Linked DNA regions of Homo sapiens: region 2 is linked to region 1. Evidence: fine-mapped expression QTL. Tissue or cell type: fibroblasts. Region 1 holds a variant in brackets; the other region holds the start of a gene. All regions are shown on one strand. Distances are between the middles of the regions.

What was found. PIP is the estimated chance that this variant, and not a neighbour inherited with it, causes the effect.
Region 2: NEIL2 starts here. The variant in region 1 is fine-mapped to the expression of NEIL2 in fibroblasts (GTEx, PIP 0.94).

Annotation. Positions count from the first base shown.
Region 1 is chr8:11,454,114-11,456,968 of GRCh38, reverse strand. The region is part of intron 1 of FAM167A (family with sequence similarity 167 member A); the gene reads left to right. Among named protein-coding and RNA genes, the nearest start is that of FAM167A, 11 kb to the left of the region's middle. RefSeq lists a silencer at 62-161. The variant C/ACACC (reference allele first, on the strand shown) is at 1,333.
Region 2 is chr8:11,768,741-11,771,240 of GRCh38, reverse strand. It overlaps NEIL2 (nei like DNA glycosylase 2), which reads right to left and starts at 1,531. Exons shown (of 5, transcript NM_145043.4): 1 at 906-1,531. It overlaps LOC124901888 (a long non-coding RNA gene), which reads left to right. Exons shown (of 2, transcript XR_007060824.1): 1 at 1-363; 2 at 833-2,439. RefSeq lists silencers at 1,141-1,270, 1,311-1,720 and an enhancer at 881-1,381.

The DNA of each region.
Region 1 (2,855 bases):
CCGCCCACTTCCCTAACCCAGCCCCGCTCATACCCCTAATCCAGCCCCACCCACTTCCCGAACCCAATCCCCCCATTTCCCTAACCCAGGGCCCAACTCACTTCCCTAACTCAGCCCTGCCCACTTCCCTAACCCAGCCCCACCCACGTCCCTAACCCAGCCCCACTCACTTCCCTTAGCCAGCCGCACTCCCCTAATCCAGCACCACCCACGTCCTTCACCCAGCCCCGCCCATGTCTCTTACCCAGCCACACCTACATCCCTAACAGCTCTGCACATGTCACTAACTCAGCCCTAGCCATACCCAGAGCACACACCCAATAGAGCAACCACCTCACACTCGTATATTCACACACCTAGCAGGGCAGCTACCCACACTCTCACACTCATCCACCCAGCAATGCAACCACCCCCCACACTCACACTCACACACCCAGCAGGGCAGCCAGCCCCCACACTCACACTCACACACCCATCAGGGCAACCACCCCCCAAGCACTCACACATACAGCAGGGCAAGTACCCACACTCACACACTCATACACCCAGCAAGGCAACCACCCCCCACACTCACACACACACCAGGCAGGGCAACCACCCCACACACACACCCAGCAGGGCAACCACCCCACACTCACACCCATACACACCCAGCAGGGCAACCACCTCACACTCACACTGATACCCACAAGGCAACCAACCCTTACACTCACACACACAGCAAGGCAACCACCCCCCACACTCACTCACACTCACACAGCAAGGCAACCACCCCCCACATTCACACACACACACAGCAAGGCAACCACCCCCCACATTCACACACACACACAGCAAGGCAACCACCTCCCACATTCACACACACACACAGCAAGGCAACCACCTCCCACACTCACACTCACACACAGCAAGGCAACCACCCCACACTCACACTCATACCCAGCAGGGCAACCACCCTACACTCCCACTCATACCCAGAAGGCAACCACCCCCCACACTCACTCACAGCAAGGCAACCACCCCACATTCACGCACACCCAGCAGGGCAACCACCCCTCACACTCACACTCACACTCTGCAAGGCAACCACCCCACACTCACACTCATACCCATAAGGCAACCAACCCTCACACTCACACTCATACACAGCAAGGCAACCACCCAACACTCACACAACCCCAGCAGGGCAACCACCCCCAATACACTCACACTCATGCACAGCAAGGCAACCACCCCCGACACTCACACACTCATACACCCCGCAGAGCAACCATCCCCCACACCCACACTCACATTCACACACAGCAAGGCAACCACCCCCAACACTCACAC[C/ACACC]CAGCAGAGCAACCACCCTGCACACTCACACTCAGGTGAGGCAACCATCCCACACTCAAACTCAAAGCAAGGCAACCACCCCCCACACTCAGACTCACACACCCAGCAGGGCAACCACCCCACACACTCACACTCACACACCCATCAGGGCAACCACTCCCCACACTCACACATACCCAGCAGAGCAGCCACCCCCCACACTCACACACACCCAGCAGAGCAGCCACCCCCCACACTCACAATCACACTCACGCAAGGCAACCATCCCACACTCACACTCCTCACACTCATACACAGCAAGGCAACCACCCCCCACACTCACACACACCCAGGAGGGTAACCACCCCCCCCAGACACACACAGAGCAAGGCAACCACCACCCACACTCACACAGCAAGGCAACAACCCCACCACAGTCACACACACACACAGAGCAAGGCAACCACCACCCACACTCAGCAAGGCAACAACCCCACCACAGTCACACACACACACACGCACACACACATATCCCAGCAACCCATCCCTGCCACGTGCAGCACTGGGGCCGGGGTCAGGTCTCGGCAGGATGTCATCTCCATGTCAGGGCTCCTGACACCGGCTCTGACCAAGGCTTGGAATGCAGATGAGGCTGGAAAGGCAAGAGATGAGCGCCAGGGCTAGACAGCAGGGTCCCTCCTGCTCAGTTGCCATGGCAACCCCGGAGGAGGAGGGGACCACTAGGGCAGCCTGGCTCCCGGCAGCAGCTCTGTGGGGCCCAGGGCTGTGTCCCTGTCCTCTCGGCTGCCACCTGGTCAGTGCTGAGCCCAGCCAGAGGCCAGCCCAGTCCTGTCTGGTCCTCTGGGTGAGATAAGTGTTGGGTTTCTGATTAAACCCGGGCAGAAAAGCCTGCACACCCCAGGCTCGCCTCCCTAGGCCGACTGTGGAGCCATGTCCCAGACCTCCTAACCTCTTACTCACCCAGAACAAAGGGATTTGCCTTTTCAGAAAACAAAAGGAAAAGATGCAGGCATGAGCTTTGCCCTGCACCACCCTGAATTTTCTGTGTATGAAACCCCTTAGAGCCTCTGCACTCCCTTGGCTGTGGGGCTGGCCTCACTGTTCTCTGGCCTCTGAAGCCACCGCAGGTCCCAGCTCATGGCCCCTGCCTTTGTCTCCGGTTGAAATCAGGGCTGTGCCCTCTACTGATGGGCCTGGCCTGGCTGAAACCGCAACATCAGGGCAAGGTAGAGTGGAGATGCCTCTTCCTGCCACCCCTGCACCAGACAGGTGTTGACGGAGGAATCAGGAGATGCTGTCCTTGAGTGAAGCCACGAGTCTCTCTGATGTGGAGTTTTAGGCTTGGTGACACACACAGCAGGCTCAGCAGAGGAAACAGAGCGCTTTGCACACACACGTGGGCCTCCGCTCTCCAGCCAAGCCCACCCTGGCTTTGGCAGCAGAGCCATGGGCAACCCAGACGGTGTCGGGGTCAAGAAGGTGAGGCCGGCACTAAAGACATCCCATCCCCCAAGACCTGCCCT
Region 2 (2,500 bases), 310 kb before region 1:
AGGCAGCCCCTCTTACCTTTCTTCATGCAGCAAACACTTATTAAGCACCAACAGTGTGCTAGGCAGCACATCATGGGCACCATCCACTTTATTCCTGAGCGGCACCTGCCACACCAGGAGCTGGCCTTTGTTACTTTTTGCCTGGACTGTGAACCTCTAACACCTCCTGACTTTCTCTGTCCCCCTGCTCCCGCTCTCAAAAAACAGCCATTCTGACCCACTGCTGCCGACTTATTTCCCACTTTTGAAGGGACCAGATGCCGCCCTCCAGGACCGCCGACCACTAGCGTGGGGGAGGTGTGCATGAAACGACCAACACGCAGACAGAGCTCAGAATCATAAGTGAGACCCCCAGCCACGTAGGTAAGCCCGGCATAGCTACAGACAGTTATCTCTGATCCCCGAGAAACAGCTGTGGTTCTGTTCTAATCACCACGCAGGGCTCCCAGGGCCACCTCTACTCTCCCTGCCCCCAAATCATCCCAGTCCACTGACAGCCGCCTACATGAGGCAGTCTGAGTGGTGTACACCCGGGCTGTTCGGGCAGAGGAGACTCCCAGCCTCACCCGGGGCAGCTGCCTAACCACCTGTTCCTGCACCAGCCTCTCTATAAGTTATGATGAAAATCGAAAAGAACTAAGTAGATATCGGGCAGGGGGTAGCTATTATATTTCAGTGATTCTAAAAAACATTTTAGAATACTTTTAAAATCTAAGAAATGGTGACGGCTCACAATCTCGGCATTCTCATATTCGGCAGCAGCACATTCAATAACGCGCATCTTACACTCGCTGGTGCCGATTCGCTGAGATGTACTATTTCCCCTCATCAGGCTTTCCAGACACTCCCCAGGGAATCCTGACAAAACCGCCAGGCTGGAAGGAGACGTGCCAAACGCTGCTGACCTTAACCAGTTGGATGCCTGATCCTCTTCTACGGGGAAGCTTCTGGAAAAGCCTTCATCTGAAATGCACCAAGTCCTGAAAATCTCCGGACACGTGGGCATGTTTCGTTTAGGGATTTTTATGGAGATGGACAGGTGGGAAGCAAGCCGCCTCTGCAACAGCCTTGAAAGATGAGACGCGGAAGGGACTTCGAAGAGTCGCTGAAGATGCCGCGCCCACCCTCCGGCCCTCCCTGCCCGGGGGCTACCGAGGAGCTCGAGGCTGGCGCTGCGCCAGCCAGGGAAGAGGAGGGGTTGTCTCCGCCGTTCTCTTCCGAGTGCCCGAGGTGGGGGGTCTAAGACCACTGCTTTCCCAACTCTGCCTCGGGGTGCGGGGAGAGGGGCGCAGACGCGGGTCTGAGGGTCAGTGGGGGCCTCCAGGCGTGGGCAGCACCTCCGCAGGCGGCTGAGACGGAGGAGGGCCCGGGGCCCGCCCTCCCTTCCTGTCCCCTCCCGACTTCTCCGCCAGGCCGCAGATCTACCGGAGGGCGGGCGGCTGCACTCACCGGCTCCGGGTGGGTGGCACGTCGGCCCGACCCAGCACCGCTACGCAGCCCGCACAGCCGCTCCAGCTGGGGGCGGAGATTTCCCGGCTCGGCGGCCCATGCGGCCTCCGTCCCCTTAGGGGACGCCCCTGTAGGTGGAGGCTGCGGGGCTCCTCCCCCAAGTGGGCGTGGACTCCGGCCTGGAGGGGGTGGCGGGGTGCGCGCAGGCGCAGGGCTCATTCCCTGGAAAGTGGGTCTAGGTCGAGGCTGCTCTTTTGTGGGTGGGCGAGGGGTTCCATCCCGGGGGTCGCTGGAGGCAGGGCTGCATTAGAGGGTCGCGAGTGAAAGCAGGGATGGAAGAAGGGTGCAGGCTGGGACTAACATTGGAGAGACGCTCTTGGAAACTTTTTTTTTTTGCGGGGGGAGATAGTCTCGCTGTGTCACCCAGGCTGGAGTGCAGTGGCGCGATCTCGGCTCACTGCAACCTCCGCCTCCTGGGCTTAAGCCATTCTCCTGCCTCAGCCTCCCGAGTAGCTGGGATTACTGGCGCCCGGCTAATTTTTGTATTTTTAGTAGAGACCGGGTTTCACCATGTTGGCCAGGCTGGTCTTGAACTCCTGATCTCAGGTGAGCCGCCCTCCTCGGCCTCCCAAAGTGGTGGGATTACAGGCGTGAGCCACCGCACCCGGCCCTTTTGGAACATTTCTTGTCTCAAGGAGACAGTTATAGGGAAAAGTCAATGGGTGTGTGAATGGGACAGCCTGGGTGTTCCCACAATGGCAAGCCTTTCTGTGGGTTCTGCTTGGCCTCCGAGCCTAATGAAGTCGGGTGCAAAGGAAACAGGTGTTCAAGACTCGTGAAATGTTGAACGGGTGGGATTTTTTTGCTTTCTATTATTTGAATTTTATTACTTGAATTTTTACTATAAGCAAATTTTGCTTAAAGTATTTGTGTATTAAATTTTTTATTTCATAGAATAAAAGAGATAAAACAATAGGCTGTTTAAAGATACATATGTTTTCTTGTCTTTAGTTCTCGAAGGAGGATGGGGAGCCAGCACTTTCCAGGAAGT